Linked DNA regions of Homo sapiens. The protein of the gene in region 2 interacts with the protein of the main gene of each other region in a pairwise test. Each region holds a gene or a part of one and is shown on either strand. Other genes may lie near its edges.

Region 1 (7,677 bases), on a different chromosome or scaffold from region 2:
ACTCCGTCTCAAAAAAAAAAAAAAAAAAAAAACTGAAGAATAATTAATTCTTCAATCAAAACATCTGATGAATGCTCTGGTAACTTATGCTCTCTACTGACCTAGAAACAAATGAGAGAGTATGGTGTGGTTTGTGCAATCTGGCAGTGAGCAAGCTACCAACTAAATCAGTGAAAGACTCTCCTATTCTTTTTTTACTCTTCTGCAATCCCACAAAAGGCTATTTGAGGGGATACTGACTTTGAGACTGGGTCCTAACATCCATGTTTGGGGAGTTCAGGCTGCTGCTCCAGGGTTTAGCCTACAGTAGCGAAATACAAAGGACCCAGAGACCACTCATTCAAGGTTTGCCCTAAATAGCAGCAACACCACTGTCATCTCAATACACGAAGAATAGGGCTTTTCAGGTATCCTTGCCTCTTTGTCACAGAGAAGAGTTTACAGATTGTGAGACGGAAAAGTATAATTTTTAAAACCTTATAATATTTTCTATAAAAGTCACCTGAGGTGAAAACTTGAAAAGAATTATAATTTTCCAGAATGTGAGTCAAGAAACATTAGAGCAATTTTATCTTAGGAAAGAGGTCTTTGAATTTAGGCTGAAAGTAAATTGCTCTGTCTCCATGTCCTATGGTTATGGGCAAGTTTGGTACATAAATGAGAAATCCATCCAGTGGCCTTGCCCATCTCACTCCCAAACACCTGAAGAATGTAATGTTATATCTCCTAGAGTAGCAGCATGGTCTCCCTATGAAAGTCCTTCTTCTTTAAGGAGACTTCTTTCCCTTCCCTCCTAGGAGGATGAGTCAGAATCATCAAGAAAAATATGATGGGCAGAGGCATACAGTTTACCATTACCACTAGTTTAGAATTACTACTTAGCACTTTACTGCCTATTACATAGTTGGTGCTCAACAAATGTATGATAAATTAATGGTTGAGTTTTTCTTTCTTCTCCATATTCATCTTCCATGACACCACGAAGAGCAATGTTTTTCAAGAATGTTCTTCAAGGTTTGAAAGTAGCCTGCTTTAGAGAAACTGCCTACTGTACAGCCTCCAACCAAGAGGAAAAGCTGAAAAAAGCATGAAGGGATTTTGTTTTGTTTTGTTTGTTTTGGTTTTAATATGAGCATTCCCTGGCAGAAAAGCCAGGGGTAATCTCATTGCAACTAGGCAATCACTCTCAAGAAATTTTCTAACAAATAAGGAGGCCAATTTTTATTTTATTTTGAGACGAAGTCCCACTCTGTCACCCAGGTTGGAGTGCAATGGAATGATTTCAGCTCACTGCAACCTCCGCCTCCCGGGTTCAAGTGATTCTCCTGTCTAAACTTCCCGAGTAGCTGGGATTACAGGCTCCCACCACCACGCCCAGCTAATTTTTTGTATTTTTAGTAGAGATGGGGTTTCACCATTTTGGCCAGACTGGTCTCAAACTCCTGACCTCAAGTGATCCACCCTCCTCGGCCTCCTAAAGTGCTGGGATTACAGGCGTGAGCCACCACACCTGACCCAGGAGGCCAATTTTTAAAAGGTTAACTAATCTTCATGTCCAAAATGAATGTTAATTGTTCATTTTGGACATGAATGTTAATTTTTTTTTTTTTTTTTTTTGAGACAGAGTCTCACTCTGTTGCCCAGGCTGGAGTCCAGTGGCACTATCTCCACTCACTGCAACTTCCTCCTCCCAGGTTCAAGCAATTATCCTGCCTCAGCCTCCCAAGTAGCTGGGATTACAGGCCCACACCATCAGGCCTGGCTAATTTTTGTATTTTTAGTAGAGACGGGGTTTCACCATGTTGGCCAGGCTGGTCTTGAACTCCTGACCTCGTGATCCGCCCTCCTCGGCCAACCAAAGTGCTGGGATTACAGGCGTGAGCCACCGCGCCTAGCCGAATGTTAATTGTCTAAAAATTTTTCTTCTCCAATGTCTTCTCCTCCACTTTTTTCGGAATTTGTTTCTTCCTAATTACAGCGCGGTGTGGAGGAAACTGCAGCTGAGTGCCGAAAACTAGGCGTCACTGCGCATGCGTATGTGGTAGACTGCAGCAACAGAGAAGAGATCTATCGCTCTCTAAATCAGGTGAGACTGCAGGTTCACAAATTTCTTCAGATTATTTTGTTTCCTAGGACGCTGACGTGGAAAATGAGAAAGGTCTTTATGACTGCCTGATTTAAATTGGATTTTAGCTGCTAACTGAAGTAGTTATGTCACCAAGGAAGGATATATACTTTTTTTCTTGTATGTAATCCACTCAGCTCTGCCCATTATTATTGTTCATATTATTAATCAATTTCATTCTGATCAGAAGTGTGAGCAGTGGCACAGAGTGACTGACAAAAGATTTATCATCAGGGAATATGGATCACTTCCTAGTTTTGTTTTAGTCCTATTAACTTTGCAGTAATTCCAGCTTCTCTTTAATTATTTCCCTTGTGAGATTTTATTTTGGTGTTAATGTAGTCTTCTGTAGAAAATGTAATATTAATAATTATTATCACAATTATTTTAAAAGAGTAAATACCAAATAATCACAATGAACTAAGCACTCTAACAAACTTTACATTTTTTAATTCAATCCCTACAATAACTCTGTAAACTTCATTTTACAGATAAGCAAATTATGACTCAGAGAGGTTAAGCCAGACCCAGGTCATGTAGTTATTAGGTTATGAAACCAGGATTTCTCAACCAGCACTTTAGACCAGGTGCGGTGGTTCACACATGTAATCCCAGCACTTTGTGAGGCCAAGGTGGAAGGATCACATGAGACCAAGAGTTCAAGACCAGCCCAGGCAACATAGTGAGACCCTATCTCTAAAAAAAAAAAAAAAAAAAAAAAAAAAAGTTTAAAGAAAAACACATTTTTAAAAAATGAACACTTTAAAAATATTTGGTCAGAATTTATATAGGAATTTATCAACATAAATGTTAATTTCACTTTACTGATAAACTTGCAAAACATGATGTGCTGGGTACTGAAATTTAGATGTTAAAAGAACAGTTTATCCCACCTTTATGACAGTGTTCCCTTGGCCTCCACGATTTGAGCTCAACAGTCTGTCTTGCCTGAACTCTGAGAGACCTCATACAATAGAAGAAAGACTCTCATCTTTGGATTATATTGGTCCCAAAACTTTGAGTTTGAATAATACACCCAGTGAAAGTGTTCTTTCAATTTCAAAAGGTGAAGAAAGAAGTGGGTGATGTAACAATCGTGGTGAATAATGCTGGGACAGTATATCCAGCCGATCTTCTCAGCACCAAGGATGAAGAGATTACCAAGACATTTGAGGTCAACATCCTAGGACATTTTTGGGTGAGTGTGAGTCAGAAACATTTCTGATTTGTGCACCTTCTCTTAAGATACATGAAACTTATAACGGAGTTCACATACTTCTGGACAGGAAACTGGCCAGATCTTTGCCTTAATCAAGAATCATTAAATTTGTTTGAGTAGAAGAGCCACAGAGTCTCTGACACAAGGACACAGAATTCAAGTGGACACAACACACCAGAATGTAAGCTACTTGGTCTGTCTTGTCCACCAGTATCTGACACAAAGCTTGGCATGTACCAGGAGCTCAACAAATGTTTGTGGAGGTTTGTTAAGGGTTGTCAGTGTACATCTTTTCAATGCTGTCACTTGTGACTTCATTTTTTTCCCTCCACACCATGATTTTGTAATGTGTCCTCATTTTGTGGAATTTTAGAATGGAAAGGACATCAGAAGTAATTACTTGGATGTATATAGGATCGAGGACACTTTTGGACGAGACTCTGAGGCAAGTGTTCTAGATCCATGGGGTGCTGGAACTGAGAAATGCAGCTATACAGACCTCATATAATTGGTTAGTTTTGTGGGAGATGGAAATATCAACTTCAACTGCCTTTGTATAGAAATTTTTATGATTAATCTTCCAGTGCCTCAATATTAGTGTAGAATCTAGGGCAGATCTGGATTCTAGAAGAAAGAAGAAAAAAAAGAGATGTGTCCCCCTTACCTTTACCAGCTCTTCACATATGTGAATTGGCTCCCATGCCCACCAAACTACACGGAGACCTCATACATTAGCTACCTATAGCTGCATAACAAATTATACAAAACTTAGTGGTTTAAAGCAACAATGTATGTTCACTATCCTCTCACAGTTTCTATGGGTTGGGAATTTGGAGGTAGCTTGGGTTGGGAGTTCTAGTTCTATGAATTTGCATAGGATTTATTAAATTCTTATAAAATTTTATTGATGTTTCTCACAAAAGAGGTTTTTGGAAAAAAAGAAAGACTTGTTTTCTGTAACATCAACATATAATATACAATATTACAAATAGGGAGATAGTGAATTCAATCATGATTCATTAGTGTGGTGTAGAACTCTCAGCTTACACTACTCAACTGTCTTAATACAGTTACACAAGATTTCACTCTTTTAATTAGAATGATAAAGCCCCAAACCAAAAAATTATATGACACCAAATTATCATAAGGAATAATTTTAGTTCTGAAAACTCTGAATTTTTCCCTTAATATTGTTTAGATGACATATCCAAAAAAGGATCTATTTGATTCCTTCTGAAGGGAAGGAGGGGGAGTACTGAGATTAGTGTTGGCATGGGGCTTACCATACCAATAAATTTGTATCTTTATTTCTATCATTTGTAAAGAATTAATCATGGAATGCTTGGAAGTATTTTATTTCATTGTATAAGTTCTCTCAAATGCCTTTCTGTCTTAACAAAAATAAAACTACCTGATTTGGAAACCTAACGTCTATGTCATTGTCTTTCTTCTTTCTGCAATGATCCTTAAGATCACAAAAGCACTTCTTCCATCGATGATGGAGAGAAATCATGGCCACATCGTCACAGTGGCTTCAGTGTGCGGCCACGAAGGGATTCCTTACCTCATCCCATATTGGTAAGTATCACATGCCAGCCATGTTATATATTTTTATACTTTGAAGGGAGCATTACACTTCAAATTGTTACCACTGGAGAGTCCTGGTTCTTGGCATCTTGAACAAAGAATTGGACAAAACTCACCAACAAAGCCAGGAAAGAATGAAGCAACAAAAGCAGAGATTTATTGAAAATGAAAGTACGCTTTACAGGGTGGGAGTGGGCCCAAGCACAGGGGCTCAAGAGCCAATTACAGAATTTTCTGGGGTTTAAATACCCCCTAGAGGTTTCCACTGGTTACTTGGTGTACGCCCTATGTAAATGAAGAGGATGAATTAAAGTTACAGAGTCGTTTACTCAGTGTACACCATATGTAAATGGAGAGGATATTTCCTGTCATAGCTGGAGTGTTTCCATTTGATTTAGTTCTAGGAAGTCAGCATGAATCGGCCTTATGTTCCCTGCCTCCAGACCCTGTTCTCCTGCCTCAAGATTACAATGCTGAGAGCAGAGTGATTTGGATTTACAGAATTTAAATTTATAGTAGTTTAGAATGATTTTTTAAATGACTTTTTCTAAAACAATGAAACCAGGTTGTAATTATATTTAAGATATTTTTAGATTTCTGCAAACTCCTCTGTAGAACAATGAGAGAAAACAGTAATGCCAAGCATGTTTCCATTGTTTCCTGGAATAAGAAACAGAAACCCCACAGACTGAGAAGCAAAACCTACAGAAGCTAAAATGAACACATGTCTATGTCATGGCCTTGGTGCCCAAGATAAGACAATCAGAGTGGTCCCTGGATCAAAACATTTTACAGTGTGCTTGTGCCATGAAAGTGTGTGTGTGTGTGTGTGTGTGTGTGTGAGAGAGAGAGAGAGAGAGAAAACGACTCTACCTGACTAAAAGTTGCAGATACCACACTCCATGCACCACCAAAGACATAAAGGGAAGGAGGTGAGAGGCGTTAAGGATGTACTGCTGTATTTGCCAAATATCCTTTCCTGTAAACTCTTCTCCAGATCCTCATAATAAAATTAAGAGGCCAAAGTGGCAACCATTGTCAAGAGAAAAACTATCAACCATTGTCAAGAGAATAACTCAGTTATTGAGAGAGAGAGGAGAAATGAGCAGAGTCCTACAGAAGTCTGTCAACACAGATACCAGTTTTGTAGAATTTCTAAATGTATTTTTCCTGATTCATATTTTTCAAAATAAAAGCAGCAATAAAAACTGATTAGAAAACAGTTTGAAGATTCAATGGAAAAACCTTACATGTAGGATGGAAAACTGAACATTAAGCCAATCAATAGAGTTATTTTTGTTCTTTTGTTATCATTGTTGTTTAAGAAATGAGATACGTTCACAATTCTGCTTAATCATGTAAGAAAATGAAAATGAATTGCCATTTATACTCTCAGAAAAATCACAAGTGGCTGATTTTTGGCTTCCACTTGTTCTTAAGCCAAATGATACCGCCTTCTCACAGAAAGCTGAGGATTGGTTTCACTCTCCCTTAGCTAACAATGCTTAATAATTCTCTTACAGTTCCAGCAAATTTGCCGCTGTTGGCTTTCACAGAGGTCTGACATCAGAACTTCAGGCCTTGGGAAAAACTGGTATCAAAACCTCATGTCTCTGCCCAGTTTTTGTGAATACTGGGTTCACCAAAAATCCAAGCACAAGGTAAGGTCAAAATCAAGTTAGAATGGGTATGTGGTATGATAAATTGATATGAAAACTAATGAGAAATGTTTAGGCAGGCCAACTAATAGAAGAAAATGAAGAAGGAAAAATAATTTTTCTTATTATTATTATTATCTTGAAATTAAAGGAATAAAGGGGGAAAACACATTAGGGACTAGCAGGAATGATCAGCCACCGATGAACTGGGATATTTATTTGTGTCCGGGAGAAAGCACATACATTTGATCACCGTTACCACCCTGTCTTTAAAATGCAAATGTTCCAAGGACCAGCAAATAAATTGAGTATCTAGCTCCTTAGTCAAGGTGAATTTCTGCAAGAACTCTTGTCTCTGGTGAGACAGGATTTGAGACCACAAGAGAAGAAAAATTAGTCCTGAAAGGAGAAGAAAAAAGCAGGAAGGTGTGGATAAGAACCCGAAAATTAAGCCATCTGCTTAACAAATTTTTCTAATCCTAGTATATATTCTGCTGCAGGTTAACAAAATATACTAAGCTTAATGATTCGAAACCAATTTTTTACTGGAAGGGAATTAATCCTAAATATATTCATTCAAAAGAACTAAACAATTCTCTGTTGAGTGCCGCCTCATTTGAGGATACTGACTCTTACAGCCTGAGTTAGCTATGTGGTCTCTGCAGCTGGAATCACTCCCTGCCACTGGAGTCCTTCATGGTGTTAGACCATAGGTACTGTTGACTAAAGAAAAAAAAAAGTTTTTGTTTTTATTTTTGTTTTTTTTGAGACAGAGTCTCACTCTGTCACCCAGGCTGGAGTACAGTGGCGCGATCTCAGCTCACCGCAACCTCCGCCTTTCTGGGTTCAAGCAATTCTCCTTCCTCAGCCTCCTGAGTATTTGGATTACAGGCGCCCACCACCACGCCTGGCTAATTTTTGTATTTTTAGTAGAGACGGGGTTTCACCATGTTGGCCAGGCTGGTCTCAAACTCCTGACCTCAGGTGTCCTACCTGCCTTGGCCTCCTAAAATGCTGGGATTACAGGAGTGAGCCACCATGCCCGGCCAAAAAAATAAGTTTTTAAAGAATTAAAGGTCATCCTGGCT
Region 2 (7,677 bases):
GGAGGGGGCGGGGTGGAAACTGGTGAGCGGGCAGGGTGGGGGCGGGGCGGGCACAGGTGAGCGGTCGGGGGAGGGGGCGGAGGCGGACACAGGTGAGCGAGGCTGCGCGGAGACCTGTGAGCGGGCGGGGCGGAGCGGAGACAGGTGGCCGCGGCGGGGCGCCGGGAGGAGGGGTCAGGGCTTCGCGGTGCTCCTCTCAAAAAACATACAAAGCAGAGGAACGAGAAAGGGGAAAAGTCGGATAGGTGGGGTGGCTCACACCTGTAATCCCAGCACTTTGGGAGGCTGAGGCGGGTGCATCACCTGAGGTCAGGAGTTCGAGACCATCCTGGCCAACATGCTGAAACCTCGTCTCTACTAAAAACACAAAAATTAGCCGGGCTGCGCCTGTAGTCCCAGGTATTCGGTAGGCTGAGACAGGAGAATCGCTTGAGCCCTGGAGGCGGAGGTTGCAGTGAGCCGAGGTCGCACCACTGCACTCCAGCCTGGGCCAGAGAGCAAGACTCCGTCTCAAACAAAACAAAACAAAAACTTTTAAAAACGCTTTGTTGCCCCAGGTCCAGCCTCACCTGCTCATTTCATTGATTACTGCTGTGCAAAATATACTAGCACTGCTAGCAAGCCATATGTAGGTAATAAGTGGATCGAGTCCAACAATGATAGACTGGGTTAAGAAAATGTGGCACATATACACCATGGAATACTATGCAGCCATAAAAAATGATGAGTTCATGTCCTTTGTAGGGACATGGAAGAAATTGGAAATCATCATTCTCAGTAAACTATCGCGAGAACAAAAAACCAAACACCGCATATTCTCACTCATAGGTGGGAGTTGAACAATGGAATCACATGGACACAGGAAGGGGAATATCACACTCTGGGGACTGTTGTGGGGTGGGGGGAGGGGGGAGGGATAGCATTGGCAGATATACTTAATGCTAGATGACGAGCTAGTGGGTGCAGCACACCAACATGGCACATGTATACGTATGTAACTAACCTGCACAATGTGCACATGTACCCTAAAACTTAAAGTATAATAATAAAAAAATATATATAAATATATTTAAAAAAAGAAAATTAAAAAAATGGTTTCTTACAAAAAAAATAATAAATAAGTGGATCGAGTGACCAAGGGTCCTGAGCAAGGTCCCTTTAGGGCTCAGTGGCTTTCAAACTTTGACTGGCTGCACTCACAGTAAGAAATTTCATCCCTGGCTGGGCGCGGTGGCTCACGCCTGTAATCCCAGCACTTTGAGAGGCCGAGGCGGGCGGATCACCTGAGGTCAGGAGTTCGAGACCAGCCTGGCTAACATGGTGAAACCTCGTCTCTACTAAAAATACAAAAATTAGCCGGGCATGGTGTTGGGCGCCTGTAATCCCAGCTACTTGGGAGGCTGAGGCAGGAGAATCACTTGAACCCGGGAGGCGGAGGTTGCAGTGAGCCAAGATCGCGCCACTGCACGCCAGCCTGGGCGACAGAGTGAGACTCAGTCTTGAAGAAAATAATAATAAAATAAAATAAGAAATAAAAATGCTGGTCAGGATCAGCTAAATGGCTTTTATAAACTGCCCTTCTTCTCCCCTACTAATGGGTCTGACCCAAGTATATGATCCCAGCTAGTTAAGCATCTGAGGGAGAAACTTCAGGTAACTATTAGGCATCAATGGGAAATTAAGATATGGCAAATGTGAAATTATATTGGTGACAACAGTGGTCTCCAACCTTTTGGCACCAGGGACTGGTTTCATGGCAGACAATTTTTCTATTATTACACTGTAATCTATAATGAAATAATAATATGACTCACCATAATATAGAATCAGTGGGAGCCCTGAGCTTGCTTTCCCGCAGCTCGAGGGTCCCATCTGGGGGTGATGGGAGACAGTGACAGATCATCAGGCATTAGATCCTCGTAAAGAGCATGGAACCTGGACCCTCCCGTGCGCAGTTCACAATAGGACTGGCGCTCCTATGAGAATCTGAGGCCACCACTGATCTGGCTGGCAGCGGAGCTCAGGCGGTCAGGCTCCCCTGCTGGTCATCTCTACGCTGTCGCCCAGTTCCTAACATGCCACGGACTAGTACCAGTCCATGGCCCAGGGTTTGAGGACCCCTGGGTGAAAACACTTTACATTTTTTGCATTTCGTGTGATGGGGTAGAAGACACTACTGAGTCCCATTCATGCCAGACCTGGGGACGGCTCAGTGTGGAAAAAGGAAAAGTGAAAAGAGCAGGAGGGAAGGCCTGGCAGACCTCGCAAATGGGACTCAGAGCTTGGTGGTGACTCGCCTGCCCTGGCTGGGCTGCTGGCTCCTGATGGTCCTGGGACCCAGGGAAAGACGGTCACAGAGCAGATGCCTGGAAGGAAAGGGATGGGATCCTGTAAGAGCCCTCATTTGTCCTCATTGTACAACGTGGGGAAACTGAGGCTCAAACCTGCCTGACCCAGGTGGGACCCGAACACTCTCCAGGGCCCCCGAAGGCCTGCGTGGAGTACAGGGGTAGGAGGGGGTGGGCGCTCCATCCATCCACCCCCACTGTTCCCACGAAGCCCTTCTCTTCCCAGCTGTGGCCGCTGCAAACACAATGAGCCGTGCTCTCCAGACACAGGCAGCTGTGAGTCCTGCGAGCCGGGCTGGAACGGGACCCAGTGCCAGCAGCCCTGCCTGCCTGGCACCTTTGGCGAGAGCTGCGAACAGCAGTGCCCTCACTGCCGACATGGGGAGGCCTGTGAGCCAGATACTGGCCACTGTCAGCGCTGTGACCCTGGCTGGCTGGGGCCCAGGTGAGGGCACCATTCTGTTCAGGGTGGGGTACACCTTCCCCCAGGACCCTCAGCTCAGCGGCTCTCTCCGAGAGCACCACCCTCCCCGACACACAGGTTCATGCGGCCCCAGGGGCCTCCCTCCTGTTGAAGACTGGGGGAGAGCAGTGGGTTCTGGGGGGGCCTGGGCAGGATCCCAGCTCCCTCCCCTCTGAGGCTTCCTGCCCTCCTCGCCCTCTGGGGACTTGTAGTCTGTCACCTGCTGGATTTGGCCCCAAGTTCAAGGCCCTATTTGCACCTGAGCTTCACTGCTGAGGAGTGGCCAGTTGGGTCCTTGAGTCCAGGAGCGTGGGGCGGAGGGGTGGGGCCCCACAGTGGGGGCCAGGCCTGCCTTGGTCTCCCCTTCCCCGAGTCTTGCCTCACCCCAGGTGTGAAGACCCCTGCCCCACTGGTACCTTTGGGGAAGACTGTGGCTCTACCTGCCCCACCTGTGTTCAGGGGTCCTGTGATACTGTGACAGGGGACTGTGTCTGCAGTGCCGGCTACTGGGGGCCCAGGTAAGGATGGGGATCCCGGGGGCGGGAGAGTGCCAGGGGCCTAGGTCAGGGCTCTGTGCAGCATTTCCTGAACTTCCCTGGACAGTGCCCAGAAATCTCCCTGCCCGTCTCCTGCCTGCCTCCCCCACTTCACCCAGCCCTCAGCCTGCCTCTCCATGTCACTCCATAGCTGCAACGCCTCCTGCCCAGCCGGTTTCCATGGAAACAACTGCTCAGTTCCTTGTGAATGCCCAGAGGGACTCTGCCACCCTGTCTCTGGGTCCTGCCAGCCAGGTAAGGTGGAAGAAGGCTGCGGGGTGCAGTAGCCAGGGAAAGGCGGGCCCTTCACATGGGCTCCAGGGCAAGTTCCTCACCAGGGAGTCTGGGCCCACTTCAGAGATATTCTTTTTTTTTTTTTTTTTTCCCTTAAGACGAGGTCTTGCTCTGTCACCCAGGCCAGAGTGCAGTGGTGTGATGTCAGCTCACTGCAACCTCCACCTCCCAGGTTCAAGCCATTCTCCCATCTCAGCCTCTCGAGTAGCTGGGATTACAGGCGCACGCCTCCATGCCTGGCTAATTTTTATATTTTAGTAGAGACAGGGTTTCACCATGTTGGCCAGGCTGGTCTCAAGCTCCTGACCTCAGGTGATCTGCCCACCTCGGCCTCCCAAAGTGCTGGGATTACAGACGTGAGCCACTGTGCCCGGCCCAGAGACATTCTTTATACCTGAGCTCTGTGTGGATGCTCTGGGGCCCCCTGAAGATGTGACAGAGCCCCCGCCCCTGCGAAACCAGGCTAGAGCCGTGAAATGGGCAGCGGGGTGGCTGGACACTGACATGGCCTCAGGGGCAAGAACCTGTGGAGGGGACACGCCAGCAGAGGGGCTGCCCGGAGGCAGGGAGTGACCCCCAGGAAGAAGCTTCTGGGTAGCAGGCAACTCAGAGCAAAGACAGGATGTGTAGGAGACAGGAAGGCCTGAATATCCCCCGTTTCTGGCTCCCCCAGGCTCTGGCAGTCGGGACACTGCCCTCATCGCGGGCAGCCTTGTGCCTCTGCTGCTGCTCTTCCTGGGCCTTGCCTGCTGTGCCTGCTGCTGCTGGGCCCCCCGATCAGACCTCAAGGACAGGTGAACGCCAGCCCGTCCCTTCCCCACACAGCTCAGGCCACAGGGTGGGAGCAGGGGGGCATCTGGTTTCCTTGTGGGGTGGGGAGGGCTGGCCTTGTTGCCCACGTGGGTCAGAGGTGATGGGGGTGGGGAGGGCTGGCCTTGTCGCCCCCGTGGGTCAGAGGTGATGGGGGTGGGGAGGGCTGGCCTTGTCGCCCACGTAGGTCAGAGGTGATGGAGGTAGTTGGCAGTGCCCGTGGCCTGGAGACACTGGAGACACCGGGTCAGCTGCCTGCCCTCCTCGGAAGCCTTCAATGAGGAAGTTTCTGAGTTGCATGGGCACCAGGCTGGCGAACCGGAGCCTGCAGCGGGAGGCAGAAAGCTGACACCGGCGGGGACCAGAGGAGGAGGGCTGGGACCACGGAAGGAGCAGCCCGGCTCTGGGCCAGGAGGGAAAGAGACCAGGCCTCAGATGGCCCACGAAGGAAAGAGACATCAATGTCTGTGCAGTGGTTTAGCAGAGAGTGTAGCTGCCTGAGAGACGGAGAGGGGAGGAAGGGTTGGGCTGGTGGGGCCCGCGCAGGGGGCTTACGCAGAGCTTTGTTCCTTTATGAAACCTCGTCACATTCCAGGCTCCTTTGAGACTCACAGCAGCGTGGAGGTTTGGAACAGGGAGTGTGGGGCCGGGAGGATAAATGTCCTCAATTCCCAGAGGACATTGAGGCCCAAGGTGATCTAGTTGGTACTGGCACACAGGAAGCCCCTCTCCACCTTTTTGGACTCTTTGTCTGGTGCTCTCTTACTAGTTCCTGCCCTAGTCCAATAGCACATCCTCCTCTGTGCTTGTGCGGCATTCACAGAGGAGCAGATACAGTTGCCCCTGGCCCAGGGCATAGAGCCCAGGGTGGGAAGAAGCCCCTCGCAGGGACACGAGGACAGGTGCAAAGGCTGTTGGAGGAACAGTGAAGAGCAGAGCAGTCTCCTCCACATGTGGGGGTAGAGCAGAGTGGGAACAAGGGAAGGCTTCCTGGAGGGGGTGTCATTTGAGACAGGTGCGCCGGGCGCAGTGACTCACGCCTGTAATCCCAGCACTTTGGGAGGCCAAGGTGAGTGGATCACCTGAGGTCAGGAGTTCAAGACCAGCCTGGCCAACATGGTGAAACCCCGTCTCTACTAAAAATACAAAATTAGCCGGGTGTGGTGGTGCACGCCTGTAATCCCAGCTACTCAGGAGGCTGAGGCAGGAGAATCACTTGAATCCAGGAGGCGAAGGTTGCGGTGAGCCAAGATCGTACCACTGCACTCCAGCCTGGGCAACAAAAGCGAGACTCTGTCCCAAAAATAGAGAGAGAGAGAGAGAGAGAAACGTGAGCTGAGGCTCAGCTAGGATGATAATAACAAAGACCTGCCAGGTCCTGCAAAAAGCTCAGATAGATGATAGATAGATGGATAGATATAGATAGATAGATAGATAGATAGATAGATAGATAGATAGATAGGATCTGTTTTACAGATGCGGAAACTGAGGCCTAGGGAGGTGAAGTGTGAACCAGAGTTGTTACTCGGCTGTCTGACTCTAGAGCCACTCTTTGTTCTGTGGCAGGCCTGAATTGTGGGCTCAATCATTTGGATTTTATTCTGTAGTCAATAGAGAGCCACTGAAGCCACTGAAGTAGAGGCAGTCACCCTGTCACACCCTGCCAAGGTGACCCAGGTCACCGTGGGTCTCATGTACTGACCAGTGTCCCTACCCTCCTCCCTCAGGCCAGCGAGAGATGGAGCTACCGTGTCCAGGATGAAGCTGCAGGTCTGGGGGACACTGACCAGCTTGGGCTCCACGCTGCCCTGCCGTTCCCTCAGCTCCCACAAGCTACCCTGGGTGACAGGTCAGTGGGCGCTGGGGGCCGGGGTCTGGGATTGGACAGGGCTTTGCATCAGGTCCTGCAGGCGCCTGATCTGGAGTCTCTACAGTCTCACATCACGACCCGGAGGTCCCCTTCAACCACAGCTTCATCGAGCCGCCCTCTGCCGGCTGGGCCACTGATGACTCCTTCTCATCCGATCCTGAGTCTGGAGAGGCAGATGAGGTTCCTGCCTACTGTGTGCCACCCCAAGAAGGTAGCCCCCCAACAGCCCACATAGCCCCTGAGCAGCCCTGCCCACCACGACCCCCTCTTTAGTCCTCCAGCAAAGTTATTTATTTTTATTTTTTTTTGAGACTGGGTCTTGCTCTGTCGCCAGGCTGGAGTGCAGTGGTGCGATCTCAGCTCACTGCAACCTCTGCCTCCCGGGTTCAAGTGATTCCCCTGCCTCAGCCTCCCAAATAGCTGGGATTACAGGCGTGCACCACCACACACGGCTAATTTTTATATTTTAGTAGAGACCGGGTTTCACCGTGTTAGCCAGGATCGTGATCCACCCGCCTCAGCCTCCCAGAGTGCTGGGATTACAGGCATGAGCCACTGCGCCTGGCCAGCAAACAGTTATTAAGGGCCCATTTTGTGTTAGTCACTGTTCTTGGCTCCGGGCATGCAAGAGATAACAAGACAGATTCCTATCCTCACCAGGCTTAGAGTCAGATGGGCAGTCATCAGACAATGACAGGACACAGTGATATGTGTTTCCATGGGGGACATACAAGTAGGGACTCATTTGCTAGCCATGTTGGGGTGACTGGGGTCAGGGACGATGTGTGTGGCATCCCAGTCGAGTCTAGCAGAATCAGTAGGAGTTGGCCAAGTGAAAGTCAGGGAGAGGAGGGAATGGTGTTTCAGGAAGATGGAACAGCATACACAAAGGCCCAGAGGTGAGAGGGATGTGGCTGTGTGCCATCGAAAGAGTTTTAGCTTGGTAAGAGTGTGACAGTATTTCAAAGTAGGGAGAGGTGGTGAGAAAAGAGTATAGAGACCAGGTGTGGTGACTCACACCTGTGATCCCAGCACTTTGGGAGGCTGAGGCGGGAGGACTGCTTGAGGCCAGGGGTTTGATACCAGCCTGGCCAACATAGTGAGACCCCATCTCTACAATTAAAAAAAAAAAAAGTGTAGAAGTAACAGTGTCTACCTGAATTGGTCCTTCTGCCACTCTCCTCATCCTTGCCCTCTTCCTTGCCCTATTTTTGAGGCCTCCTGGAAGATGCTGAGCTGTGGGTAGGATGCATTGGGGTGGCCAGTTCAGCTCCAGCCAAGCTCTTCTGTCTCCTCTGCCAGGGATGGTCCCTGTGGCCCAGGCAGGGTCGTCAGAGGCCAGCCTGGCTGCAGGTG
Region 3 (6,262 bases), on a different chromosome or scaffold from region 2:
GCCAGAGAAAAGCAGAGATGGGGCTCTTCCCTGGATGCATCTCCACAGGGTTGCGTGGGGCTTGATGGGTGCCAAGTGCGACAGACACACAGGGGCTGGGGGACACAGAGGACAGGGTAATAATTCCACCAGGCACAACAGTAATATTGGCAGGGGCACATTAGGAAAATCAGGACGAAATACACACGATGTCCCAGGGTTTGTTTCACCAAACACTAGCTTCTGGGAAAGAATTTATCTTAGGCACATTTTTACATGACTTTTGTTCATGTTACAGTATGAGGCAACTCACGTGTCATTTTAAACCTTGGCTTCCTGCACGCCTCGGTAGAGAGGGACAGCTGGCTAAGCCACCAGCCCGAGATTCCCTGGTGGGGAGGAGTTAGAGCCGAGCCGAGGCACTGGAGTTTGGCAAAGCCAACCCATGCAAAATGGACCACTGAGAACACGAAAAACTCTCACGGAATGTTTCTTTAGTCCAACATGGAACTTTATCATGAATGATCAAACTCCTTTTATTAAGACTCTTAGAGCTGTGACAAGGGGCAGGATCAACTGCTCTGCAAGTCCCTAATTCCCTTTCGTTTTTTTCAAGTTCCATGAAGTGCAAGGTACAAACAGGTATCAAAGGAGTCCCACTTGGGTCAGTAGGTGTGGAAAGGAGCGGAGCTGACCCATTGCTGGGATCTGGCCATAGGCAGAACATTGTGGGAGAGATGGGGAAAGAGACAGGAGGGGGAGAGCGAGAAGGAGGAAAGGGAGCAAGAGAGTTAGGGAGAGAAAGAAAGAGATGGAGAGAGAGGAAGAGTGGGAGGGAAGAAGAGAGAAGATCACTCCAAACCCATGGTACTATCCTTGGGTTATGCCTGATATGCCTGACATCTTGAGTGGCCCTGGGGCAGGGTGTTGCGCTTTGAAACAATTCATGCTCTCACTTGTAGAAAAGGCCGACTTCTTTGGACACAGACACACATAAAAAAGAAACCAAGGCCATATCAAATTTTTCTTTTATTGTTCCAGTCAAAAAAAGAGGAACACCTCAATATGTAAACAGTTTCCCTAACACAGCGAGTTCTTAAAGATATATATATATATATATATTTTTTTTTTATTTTAAAAAAATTTGGCATTGTAGTGATTTCTCAATACATAATTTGTGCTTTCGCATTGAGCATGCTTTCGTCTCATTGTCCGTGCACAGACATACTTGGAGTTGAGTAAAGGGAGTTACAAAAGGACCAAAAAATGGGACAGGAGCCAAACCAGTACTTGAGCCCTACCTGGTGTTCCTTCCTAAAAAGCATGGTGGAAAAGTTGGCAAGATTGACCTCAGAAGCAAATCTTAGTGACTTTATTCCAAAGAAATCTTAGAAGCCTTGGTAGCAACTTTTGAAAGAAGCATTTCTTGTTTTCTTTCTGTTCATCCCTAAAGGATCATTGGTTTTGCTTGGAGAAAACTTTAGTTATTTTGTATGTTATATTTCTTAATATCCCTAAGTCCCTTCTAAAATAAACTCTTGTTTTGTGATTTTGCTGGACACATGATGGTTTACAACTACATGCTATTGAAATTCCACTAGTGATTTATTCTGCTTTTTGCTGAATCATTTCAAAGTGCTTGACAGTTGTGTAAAGACCTTTTGGTTTTGTCCAGTGAAAATTATTTTTTAATTCAATACTAAAGACTTCAGAGCCTTTAAGATGCAATGATGGGTTTATCAATAATACTGTTCATGCTATTCGTTTCTTAGTCCTTGTCCTTAGCCTGAAATTCTAAGTCTCTATAAATTAGCACCAGTTTTCCAAATGCATATTTTATCAAATCCTATGATCCTAGGCTGGTCTAGGTACCATCCCCCAATCTTACCTTGTGTGTTTCTGTTTTAAGACCCTCTCCCATGCTGGCCTTGCAAACTGAAATGCCTTTGCTTTTGGATCTCTCTCTCTCTTTTTAAAATAGAGATGGGGTCTTGCTGTGTTGCACAGGCTAATCTTGAATTCCTGGGCTCAAGCAATCCTCCCACCTTGGCCTCTCAAAGTGCTGGAATTACAGGCATGAACCATTGTGCTTGCCTGCCCTTGGATCTCTGTCTCCAAAACCTAAGCAGTCTTTGAGAAATGTCAGGGCAAATGTCCCTTTCTTCCTCATGAGGCCATTTCTTACTGCTTACGCAGAAACTGATCTACTTTCTTTACATTCCAGCAAATTTGTTGTGCCTGTCCCTCTTCGTTTAGGTATTTCTAAAACTAGACTCAGTTACTTCACGTGTGAAGTGGGAAGCAGTATTTTCTCACAGGGTTTTGTGTGGTTCGATGCACTTAGCGCAGTGTTGTTGCATGGTAAGGGCTGGCAGCCATGGGATTACAGGCTTGTTGAGGACAGTGGGGGATGTTACTTTTTCTCAGAGTCTTCATAGTAACTTGTCAAGGACATCACTCACTGTACTGCAAGTGTTCACTGAGTGCTCATGGCCAGCACTCAGGCAAGTGAATACACATTTGGAGTAATAAAATATGGGGCATCAGCTAACTTTCAGAATATTTTGAGTGGAGTTTTGTCCTTGTCTAGTTTTAGTTGCCTGTTGGGATCCCTGAGTATAAAAATACAAGTGTGTGCCTGCTCCCAGCATTGACGAGCTTCATGAACCTTGAAAATGGAACACTTTATTTCTCTGTAGGATGTGAGCATTTGATAAAGAACTCAAGTTCCTGAAAAAATTTCTGGAGACAAAGTTGAGGATCAAGTATCATCTGTGCTTCATTTCTTTTGGGAAGATGTGCGTTCTCTAGGTGTGGATATTGGAGTTGGCACACTGACATGCACCCTAATGACCCTCAGCTTGGGGACCCAATTCTGACACCTGCTGGGCTTTGCTTTCTTTGCTTAACTAGTTCTTGAAAATTCTGTGTGATGGTGAGAATAAGAAGTTCCAGGTACATAGAAACATGAATGTCCACAAACATGCAACCCCCAAACTAGATGCAGTCTTATCTTCAATCGCATAGATTCAAAATTAAAGAGACTATTGAAACCTTGGCACTGCTAGAGACTTTTGAACTAATAGCTTTCTGGAATAATTTTCTATCCTAAGAAATAGCTCACAGAACAACCCTATATTTTACTGGGCCATAGTAAACATTTTGGGCCTTAATATAATGCCATTTTATTAGGAAAGACAAATACAATGAATTATCTTATGATTAATAATGAAAAGTGGCCACTATTTTCCATTACTGGTATATAACTAAAATAAAGCAGTAGTGCTACGGTTAAAATAAATCAGCTTAATTAAAATATTATGGTTTAAGCTTTTTGCCTCCTTAATTATCCTGTCTGGTTTAGTTTTTGTTTTGTTTTTCTGACTGGGGCCCTAGGTGCATGCTTTAGGGAGGGTAGAGCTGGATTTGGGTTAAAAGCAAATTGTCAGTAGCCTGCTGGAGCTGAAGGAATTGCTCATGGATGAGCTGGCGAGATGCAGCCTCACATTTATTTTCTATCAATGATGCTGACCTTCCTTGGACATTTTTCTACTGCAGAGAAGACCACAGTGCATGTCCAGTAGCACCTCATTTATCTAGAAGGCACCTACCTCACAGCTCATCTCTCTGCTACCGGGTTTAGTGGTGGTAATGACAGGGGAGCAGGACGTGGTCGGTGGGTGCTGTTGGAGACAAGTGTGTGGCTGGTAGTTAATTTCCCTGCTGCCAGCAAGGGAATCAGTTAAATGATGAAAACAGCTGAGACTTAAAGCTGAACCATCTGGGGTCATTTAGTGTAGAGGTACAGTCTAGAACTGATGGTGGTGTAGGTTGGAATGGATACTAGAATTATTAAAGCAGAGACTATGGGGTTCAAATGTTTGTTGAAAAAGATGAGGAAACTACAGCAGATTAGTCTTTTTGCTTAAGCTTGCATGGAATGTTCATCAAGTTAGACTGCATTCTGGGTCATAAAACATACCTTAACACATTTAAAAGAATAGAAATTCTCAGATCACTTGGGATCAGGAGTTCAAGACCAGCCTGGCCAACATGCTGAAACCCCATCTCTATTAAAAATACAAAAATTAGCCAGGTTTGGTGGTGGGCACCTGTAGTCCCAACTACTTGGGAGGCTGAGGCAGGAGAATCGCTTGAACCCCGGAGGCAGAGGTTGCAGTGAGCCAAGATCATGCCACTCTACTCCAGCCTGGGCAACAGAGTGAGACTCTGTCTTAAAAAAAAAAAAAAAAAAAAAAGGAATACAAGTCCTACAATGTTTGCTCTTAGATAACAATGGAATTAAGCTAGAAATCAGTAACAGAAAGGTAGCTGGAAAATGCCAAAATACTTGGAGATTAAACAACACACGTGTAAATATCATGGGTCAAAGAAGAAATCTCAAGATAAGTGAAAAAATATTTTGAAATAAATGAAAATAAAAACATAGCTTATTATAATTTGTGGGATGCAATAAAAACAATGCTTAAAGGGAAATTTATAACATTGAATGCAGATAGCACAAAAGAAGATCTGAAATCAATCATTTAAGTTTCCATTTTAAAAAAGTAGAAAAAAAGAGCAAATTAAACCCAAAGTAAGCCAATGAGAAGAAATAATTAAAATTAGATTAAAAATTCACGAAATTGAAAATAGGAAATCAATAAAATAAATAGAAACAAAGTTGATTCTTTGAAAAGATCAATAAGCTCCATAAGTCTCAAGGCATGCTAACTAAGAAAAAAAGAGAAAGAACACAAATTACTACTATCAGAAATGAGAGCGGGGACGTTACTAGCAATCCCATGGAGGTTAAAAGGATAATAAAAGATAATGAAGGAATTTTATGAATGACTTTATACCCACAAATTTGATAATGTAGATGAAATGAACCAATTCCTTGAAAAATAGAATTTGTCAAAACTCACACAAGAGCAAATAGACAATCTGAATAGGTATATCTCTGTTAAATAATTTGAATCAATGGTTAGTAACCTCCCCAACCAGAAAGCACTTGGCCCAGATGGGTTCACTGGTGAATTCTACCAAAGACTTAAGGAAGAAATGATACTGATTATCTACAATCTCTTTCAAAAGCTAGAAGCAGAGAGAACACTTGCTAACTCATTCTATGAATCCAGCATCACCTTAATACCAAAACCAGACAAAGACATTACAAGAAAACTACAGACCAATACCTGTCATAAGCATAGATGCAGAAATCCTCAACAAAATATTAGCAAATCAAGTCCAACAATATATGAAAATAATTAAACACCATGACCAGGTGGAATTTGTCCTAGGTATATAAGGCTGGTTCAACATTCAAAGATCAACTAATGTAATGAATATCAACAGGCAAAAGAAGAAAAATTGCATGATCATATCAACAGATGCAGAAAAATCCAAACAGTCTTTCATGATAAAAACACTCAGTAAAGCAGGAATAGAGGAGAAGCCCCTCAACCTGATAAACAATATCTAAAAAAAAAACCTTACAGCTAACATCATACTAAATGGCGTGATGGTGAGAAACCTGAAGCTGTCTCACTAAGATCAGGAAAAAAAAGGTGTCCCCATCACTACTGCTTTTCAACATGATACTGGAAGTCCTGGCTGATGCAATAAGACAAGGAAAGGAAATAAAAATATATAGATTGGGAAGAAAGAAGAAATAAAACTTTGTCTTTGTTTACAGATGACATGATCATCTATGTAGAAAATCTGAAATAACTGACCAAAAAACAAAACAAAAACAAGCCCCAGAACCTTCCTGGAACTAATAAGGGATTATAGCAAGATTTTAGGATTCAAAGTTAATATACAAAGTCAATTGTTTTCCTATATACCGGCAATGAATAAGTGAAATTTGAAATTAAAAGCACATGATTATTTAAATTAGTATCCCTTGAAATGAAGTACTTAAGGTATAAATCTAACAATATGTATAAGATCTACATGAGGAAAACTACAAAACTGGTGAATGATATCAAAGAAGAACTAAGTAAATACAGAGATATTCCATTTCATGGAGGGACTCAATATTGTCAAGATGTCACTTCCCAGCTTCCTCTGTAGATTAAATACAATCCCAATAAAAATCTCAGCAAGTTATTTTGTTGGTACCAAAAAACTGAGTCTGCAGTTTATATGGAGAAAGAAAGCTACAGTACTCAAGACGATGTGGTGTTGGTGAAGGAATAGACAAATAGATCAGTGGAACAGAATGGAGAGCTGAGAAACAGACCCACACAAATATAGTTAACTGATCCTTGGCAAAGGA
Region 4 (7,677 bases), on a different chromosome or scaffold from region 2:
GAGCTGTGCATGCTTAGACACAGGACTCTGAAATTGAGCAGACTAGATTAGAAACTGGGCTTTTCCCATCACTAGCTGTGTGATTTGGTAGATTACTTTAACTACCTAAATCTCAATTTCCTCATTGGTAAATTGGGGATAATAATAATAATAGCTATCTGGGTGAATTCTTAAGGGATTAAATGGGTGATGTCTATACAGTGCTTAGAATTAAAATGGTATAGAGGAGAAGGGGAAAAGGGCAGACACATACGACCTCTTGTTTGCATGTGGCTGGTAGGTCAATGAACACCTGGCCCTACCTGACTGTGGGTCCTGACATATGTAATGTCCTCCTGGGCCAGCCCCTCCACACCTCCTGGAGGATAGAGATGATCCACAGGCTGGTAGACAGTCTTCCTTCTAGGCTGGGTGGTGGGACAGGTGGAGGGAGAAAACACTCTTTCTTTTTTTGAGACAGAGTCTCACTCTGTCACCCACAACACCCTTCTTCTTTATTTGAGACGGAGTCTCATTCTGTCACCCAGAGTGGAATGCCGTGGTGTAATCTCAGCTCATTGCAACCTCCGCCTCCCAGGTTCAAACAATCCTCCCACCTCAGCCTCCCAAGTAGCTGGTACCGCAGGCGTGTGGTACCACGCCCGGCTAATTTTTGTATTTTTGGTAGAGACAGGGTTTCATCATATTGCCCAGGCTGATCTCCAACCCCTGAGCTCAAGCAATCTGCCTGCCTTGGTCTCCCAAAGTACTGGGATTGCAGGCGTGATCCACCGCGCCCAGCAACACCCTTTTATAGGGAGGATCTCAGGATGGTCCTGAGGAGGGAGCAGGAGAGGGCAGCTTGGAATAAAACTTGAGATATTTTTGAGATGTAAAATAGAAGGGCAGGGCCGGGCACGGTGGCTCACCCCTGTAATCCCAGCACTTTGGGAGGCCGAGGTGGGCGGATCACGAGGTCAGGAGATCGAGACCATCCTGGCCAACATGGTGAAACCCCATCTCTACTAAAAGTACAAAAATTAGCTGGGTGTGGTGGCGCACACCTATAATCCCAGCTACTCGGGAGGCTGAGGCAGGAGAATCACTTGAACCCGGGAGGTGGAGGTTGCAGTGAGCTGTGATTGCGCCACTGCACTCCAGCCTGGGCGACAGAGTGAGACTCTCGGAAAAAAAAAAAAGGAGAGAGAATGGCGTTTCTACCCAAGCCTGAAGCCTGTGCCTCTGCAGGCCTGGGCTCCCCTGCCAAGAGAGGGGGTTGGGGTTTCCACAAAGAACACTTGGTGGCTGTGCTAAAAGCTGGGGATTGTGTTCCCCCAGCCAGAAGAGGGAAGAATTTGGACAGGAGGGGGATCTGAGCACAATCCCTGAGTGTGGCTGAGCAGCGTCTGATGGTGCGGGAGGGTCCCCTCTTCCTTCCTGCTCTTTGGCACTCTCCTCCCCTGCCGCTCGGGCTGCTTCCTCTTGGCTCACAGGGTGGTTTTCCACGCGCTTGATGAATAGAGTGCGGGCATGGTGGGCACTGGCTGCTCAGAGGGGGGCCACTTCCCCACACAGCCAGGTCCTGGGCTTCTCCGGACAGGGCCAGGAGCAGAAACGTGCGTGTGTGTGTGTGTGTGTGTGTGTGTGTGTGCACGCGTAAGCCATGTTCCCCAAGACCATTCATCCCAGGCATGCAGATAATGGGGTGTGGGAAGTGGAAGGACCTGCAAAGATCCAGAACTTCTATGTCTTTATCTTGGTTCTTCCTTGGAGATGATTTTCCAAAGTCTGTCAGAGAGCATCAGGGTCTATGGGAGCCAGGCCATTCATCCCCCAGCCTGAGAGGCAAAGAACAAGGGGGAAGGAGGCAGACATGTGTGTAAACCTCAGCTCCGCCATTCATCAGCAGTGTGGTCCTGGGCAATTCACTGTTCCTGCCTGAGCTTGAGCTTTTTCAATGGTAAGGTGGTTGATTGGGAATGTGATGACACGTAAAGTGCCCGACCCATAGGAAATGCTCATTAAATGGAGTTGTTACCATTATTATAATTCCTTCCTTCTTTCCTTCCTTCCTTCCTTCCTTCCTTCTTTCCTTCCTTCCTTCCTTCCTTGTTTCCACAGGGTTTTGCTCTGTCACCCAGGCTGGAGTGCAGTGTCGTGATCTTGGCTCACTGCAGCCTCAGCCTCCTAGGCTCAAGCCATCCTCCTACCTAAGTTTCCCGAGTAGTTGGGACCACAGGCGTGCCTCACCACGACAGGCTATTTTTTTGTATTTTTAGTAGAGACAGGGTTCCATCATGTTGCCCAGGCTGGCCTTGAACTCCTGGGCTCAAGTGATCTGCCTGCCTCGGCCTCTCAAAGTGCTGGGATTACAGGTGTGAGTCACCGCACCCGGCCCATTATTATAATTTCTATGCTTATCACTCAATTCATGGTCTAACTGAGCCAGAAGCCAGGTGTCCTTCCTTGTCCCCATAGATTTTGACCAAGTGCTTCTCTCTTCCCTCACATCCTGCCCACAGGTCTCCTCTCTGGGAGTCACGACTTTCAGCCTCTGTGCCCTGGGCATTGACCGCTTCCACGTGGCCACCAGCACCCTGCCCAAGGTGAGGCCCATCGAGCGGTGCCAATCCATCCTGGCCAAGTTGGCTGTCATCTGGGTGGGCTCCATGACGCTGGCTGTGCCTGAGCTCCTGCTGTGGCAGCTGGCACAGGAGCCTGCCCCCACCATGGGCACCCTGGACTCATGCATCATGAAACCCTCAGCCAGCCTGCCCGAGTCCCTGTATTCACTGGTGATGACCTACCAGAACGCCCGCATGTGGTGGTACTTTGGCTGCTACTTCTGCCTGCCCATCCTCTTCACAGTCACCTGCCAGCTGGTGACATGGCGGGTGCGAGGCCCTCCAGGGAGGAAGTCAGAGTGCAGGGCCAGCAAGCACGAGCAGTGTGAGAGCCAGCTCAACAGCACCGTGGTGGGCCTGACCGTGGTCTACGCCTTCTGCACCCTCCCAGAGAACGTCTGCAACATCGTGGTGGCCTACCTCTCCACCGAGCTGACCCGCCAGACCCTGGACCTCCTGGGCCTCATCAACCAGTTCTCCACCTTCTTCAAGGGCGCCATCACCCCAGTGCTGCTCCTTTGCATCTGCAGGCCGCTGGGCCAGGCCTTCCTGGACTGCTGCTGCTGCTGCTGCTGTGAGGAGTGCGGCGGGGCTTCGGAGGCCTCTGCTGCCAATGGGTCGGACAACAAGCTCAAGACCGAGGTGTCCTCTTCCATCTACTTCCACAAGCCCAGGGAGTCACCCCCACTCCTGCCCCTGGGCACACCTTGCTGAGGCCCCAGTAGGGGTGGGGAGGGAGGGAGAGGCCGCCACCCCCGCCGGTGTCTGCTGTTCTTTCCCCATAGGTCTTGCTTTGTTGCCTGTCTTGCTGTCTAGGGATGGACTTGGTTCCTCTTGTCAAGGTTTGGGAATGTCAAAGCCCCCTCCCCACACAGGGCCTTTCCTGTCCCTTGTGGGGCCTTCCAACCCTGTCCTTTCCACTGGTGGGCGGTGATGCTTCTAGGTCCTTAGAACTGCCCAGAAACTCTGAGTCCCAGCAGCTGGGAGCCAGAACTTTGCCTGCCCTCCCTTGGTTCCAGTCTCTCTTCTCTCTCTCTGCCTTGGAACCTGACCATACTTTAGTTGTGCCCTTCCCAGGCATCATCCTCCTACCACCAACCTGGGGCCCCATCTTGGAATGGGGGCTCCTTGGGGCCAGCCCAGTGTGGCTCACCACACTCTTCTTTTTTTTTTTTTTTTTTTTTGAGATGGAGTCTTGCTCTGTTGCCCAGGCTGGAGTACATTTGCCTGATGTCAGCTCCCTGCAACCTCCGCCTCCTGGGTTCAAGCGATTCTCCTGCCTCAGCCTCCTGAGTAGCTGGGATTACAGGTGTGCACCAACACACCCGGCTAATTTTTGTATTTGTAGAAGAGGCGGGGTTTCACCATGTTGGCCAGGCTGGTGTTGAACTCCTGACCTCAAGTGATCTGCCTGCCTTGGCCTCCCAAAGTGCTGGGATTACAGGTGTGAGCTGCCACGCCCAGCCCCAGTACACTCTTCTCTGGACCAGATCTGTCCCAGTCCTGGATGCCTCCTCCTACTGGTGCCTTCTTTTCTTCCAGAGGATTTCTCTCTCCTTCCTCCTCCTTTCTTTGGGATCCCTGGGTTGCCCTGTCCCAACCTCCTTGTTAGGTGCTTTCCCATAGGAGGCCCTTCTTGAGAAACAATAAACTAGGTAGAACTACCCCTATGCCCATCCACTTTCTTGTGCCACATTCTGGCAGGGCCCAGATGCAGCTGGGCCTTCCTGGCCTGGCAGTGCCTAGGAGAATTTCTCCTGACCTGGCCTGGCCTGTGGCTGATGTTCAGAACAGCCTTGTGGCCGATGTTCAGAACAGCCTTGTGGCCCTGGCGACTCCAAGGGTTTTATGGCTTTTGAGGGACAGAGAGGATGGAGGGCTTGGGGAGCCGGAGGACCTAAGTCCTCATCCTGGCCTAAACCCCATGCTCCTTGGGAAGTCAAAAGCCTGGAAAATATCTCCTCTGGAGCCTTCATCTCTGCTATGCCCTCTCTCCACAAAGCCCCCCTTGGAGGGAGTCCAGTGGTCTTTCCTCTGTGAGCCCCAGGGCTTCCCAGCCTTTGTCACTCTGAGAGCTGCTCTTGTTCAGTTTCTTAGAATGGACTGTTTTGCCTGTAGACGGCCCAGCTGCCTGCCCTGGCCTGCCCCCACCCAGCCCCCACTGCACCACCCTTCCCGCCAGAGCTCCCACTGCCCCCGGCAGACCCTTCATGCAGCTTCTCCTGTGGGGTCTTGCCCTTGAAGTGCCACTTCCCCCAGCCCCACCTCTGGTCCCTTCCAGAGGGCACCCTTAGCCTTGTAGGTCCCTGGGAAGCTGGCACAGCATCAACCAGAAGTGATGCCTCAGCCAGGCCACCAGTCGCTCCCCGCCTGGGAGCTCAGCTTTCCTCAGAACCACCCCCCCTGTCTGAAGCTCTGTCCTGGGTCCCACCAGACTTCTGCCCACCAGGCCTACCTACAGCATCCACATGGGGCCTCAGGAAGGGCCCCGGGGGCCCAGGGATGGGCAGGGGCAGGGTTTCCAAGCGCCTGGGGCTCCATTCTCCTCTGTCCACCCACCCACACCCCTTGGCCTCAGCCTGCCCTGTACCCAAGCTTCCCTCCCCCTCTCCTGGGGATCTTAACGGCCTTGTTCTCTCTCCCTGGCACCCACCCCCAGGGCGGGTGATGCCGCCAAGAGAGAGGGAGGCCGTTGCTAGGTGATGGCGCCGCCATGCACACACCCTTTGTGCTGGGGAGTGACACCCACCCGTTTCTCAGCAGACCTGTTGCCACGGTGACTGAAGCCCCCAGCTCTGTCTGTAGAAACTTCAGATGGGTGGGGGAGCAGGTTGGAGAGGGGACCAAAGGCAGGCCTGTCGTGCTGAAGCTCTTGGGGACCGTTTCCTCGGCATTTCCCCAACTCCTTCTCCACCCCCCTGCCAGGCCCGGAAGTACCACCAGCTTCCTAAGGGATGCAGGAAGGGGCCGGGTGAACTGAGGTGAAGTCCAGGGCAGGGGAGTCAGACCCCTCAACATCCTGTTTAGGGGTCCTCCTCCACAAAGGGTGCCCTCCACCTCTCCCTCCTGCTGGTTGGCCGGCTCAGAGATGAAGGGGGAGAGATGGTGGCTCCAAGGCTCTGCCACCGCCACCTCCCAAGCCTGCCAACGTGAATGGCTTGCAGAATCAGTCAGCAGGCCAGCGGCCTTGGGAAAGAGCCACTGTCCTCGCAGCCTGGGCCAGCTGGGGGAACAATGTAGGGTTTGTTGCTTAGGGGTCCCAGGCTTGCGGGGGGGTTGGCACATGGTGGGCAGTGGACTTGAGCTGGGATGGTCTGAGGGGGCACTGACACGCTCACCCGAGGGCAGACTTCAGACCAGCCCTCAGATCCTGATGCCAGGTTACAGGGCTGAGGGGAGCCTGAAATCCACTGGGTCTCCCTGCTCCACTTGGGAGTCACCTTCTCATCACCTATCCTGGAACTGAATGCAATTACTTAAACTCAGTCTCAGCTTCCTCATCTGTAAAATGGGAATAATCTGTCCTTCACAGAGGATTATGGTCATTTAATGAGACAAGATACATAAAGCACTTTGCATGGTGCCCCGAACCTTTTATTCCTTCCTCTCCTTTGGGAATTCAATTCTCTAGTGTTAGGAGCAGGCTTGGCCCAGGGATTCTTAAATGCATCCAGGTTTTGGCATCAAAGGGCCCCAAACATGACAATTTACCTATACTCATGGTCTGTTCCCATTCAACTTTAATAGGTTATGTGTGTTTTTTTTTTCTTAAGAGCTGGGTGGGGGGGTCTCACTATGTTGCCCAGGCTGGCTTTGAACTCCTGGGCTCAAGCAGTCCTCCTGTCTCAGCCTCCTGAGTAGCTGGGACTACAAGTGTGTACCACCATGCCTGGCTGAACACTTTTTTTTTTTTGAGACAAGATCCCACTCAGTCACTCAAGCTGAGTGCTGTGGTGTGATCACAGCTCATTGCAGCCTCCACTTCCTGGGCTCAAGCGATTCTCCTGCCTCAGCTTCCTGAGTAGCTGGGACTACAGGTGCGCACTACCACGCCTGTCTAATTTTTGATTATTTGTAGAGATAGGGTCTCACTATTTTGCCCAGGCTGGTCTCAAACTCCCAGACTCAAGTCATTCTCCTACCTCGGGCTCCCAAAGTACTGGGATTACAGGCATGAGCACCTGGCCCCTGAACAAATTCTTTAAGTCATATTAGCACCTGCTGCACGCCGGCACTGTGGAAGGAGGATGCTTGCTTGCTTCCTGGTAACCAGCTCTCTTATCTCAAACCTCAATCCTCAGTGAGGATCACAGGATCTGAGAAAGGCACCTTGGCCTGGAAACAGCCCCAGATGAGTGAGATTGCTGGTCCTCTCCCGGGATCCCAGGCCCAGGAAAACCTAGCCATGCTTGCAGTCAGGAGAGGGCAGGGGATAGAGCCCTGGCTCCCATTCAACCTCCTTAGCCAGGAGGACATGTCCCATTTTGCTTAGGAGTTGGGAGGTACCCTAGAATCACTTAGCTTCAGATGCCAAATTCCATCCACATTCTTTCCTCCAACTCTCTGGCAGTGGGGAACTGCCTCTCCAGGCAGGGAACTGCTCTGACAGGTCTGATGACTGCCTCCAGGAGGAAGCCCTGGGCACCAATGAAGGTGAGGGGCTGGAGGGCCCAGGACGGGGAGTCAAGGTCCCCACTCCCAGGACTAAGGGACAGTTTGGCTCCTTTTTCCTGCAGTGGGAGGGGTGAGAAGGGCTGGGGTGTTCTGCAAGGGCCTGCTCCATTTTCCAGGGTGAAGGAGAGGCCGAGGGAGGTGGAGCGGGAGGAGGTGGGGCTTACTGTGAAACTGGGTCAAGATGGCCTCGGATTTGAGCAGGCAGGGTCACCAGGCTCTGAGGCAGCAGCTGTGAGCAGTGCCGAGGGAGGACCAGCTCTGACGGTGAGGTCGGGTGGGGGACTAGAATCCAGCAGAGGAGCGAGGGCAGGGCTCCTACCAGGAAACCCATAGCATTGACACTAACTGAGAGGCAGCAAAGGCGGTGACACTCCCCCAGGCTCTGTGGGCCCAGCCCTAC

The links.
Region 1: the proteins of SCARF1 (region 2) and HSD17B13 interact in binary tests that used the Homo sapiens proteins (3 or more experiments, as listed by UniProt).
Region 3: the proteins of SCARF1 (region 2) and KCNJ6 interact in binary tests that used the Homo sapiens proteins (3 or more experiments, as listed by UniProt).
Region 4: the proteins of SCARF1 (region 2) and GPR37L1 interact in binary tests that used the Homo sapiens proteins (3 or more experiments, as listed by UniProt).

Annotation. Positions count from the first base shown.
Region 1 is NC_000004.12:87,312,738-87,320,414, reverse strand, and holds part of HSD17B13 (17-beta-hydroxysteroid dehydrogenase 13 isoform A precursor), read left to right. Parts: intron 1-1,978; coding exon 1,979-2,086; intron 2,087-3,191; coding exon 3,192-3,323; intron 3,324-4,815; coding exon 4,816-4,922; intron 4,923-6,454; coding exon 6,455-6,592; intron 6,593-7,677. UniProt on the Homo sapiens protein: Plays a pivotal role in hepatic lipid metabolism. In vitro, it catalyzes the oxidation of a variety of lipid substrates, including 17beta-estradiol, retinol, retinal, and leukotriene B4.
Region 2 is NC_000017.11:1,635,564-1,643,240, reverse strand, and holds part of SCARF1 (scavenger receptor class F member 1 isoform 1 precursor), read left to right. Parts: intron 1-2,574; coding exon 2,575-2,793; intron 2,794-3,200; coding exon 3,201-3,329; intron 3,330-3,498; coding exon 3,499-3,602; intron 3,603-4,314; coding exon 4,315-4,435; intron 4,436-6,178; coding exon 6,179-6,300; intron 6,301-6,385; coding exon 6,386-6,532; intron 6,533-7,623; coding exon 7,624-7,677. UniProt on the Homo sapiens protein: Mediates the binding and degradation of acetylated low density lipoprotein (Ac-LDL). Mediates heterophilic interactions, suggesting a function as adhesion protein. Plays a role in the regulation of neurite-like outgrowth.
Region 3 is NC_000021.9:37,606,383-37,612,644, forward strand, and holds the end of KCNJ6 (G protein-activated inward rectifier potassium channel 2), read right to left. Parts: 3' UTR 991-6,262; downstream 1-990. UniProt on the Homo sapiens protein: Inward rectifier potassium channels are characterized by a greater tendency to allow potassium to flow into the cell rather than out of it.
Region 4 is NC_000001.11:202,125,240-202,132,916, forward strand, and holds part of GPR37L1 (G-protein coupled receptor 37-like 1 precursor), read left to right. Parts: intron 1-302; exon of another isoform or gene 303-479; intron 480-2,501; coding exon 2,502-3,317; 3' UTR 3,318-7,677. UniProt on the Homo sapiens protein: G-protein coupled receptor. Has been shown to bind the neuroprotective and glioprotective factor prosaposin (PSAP), leading to endocytosis followed by an ERK phosphorylation cascade. However, other studies have shown that prosaposin does not increase activity.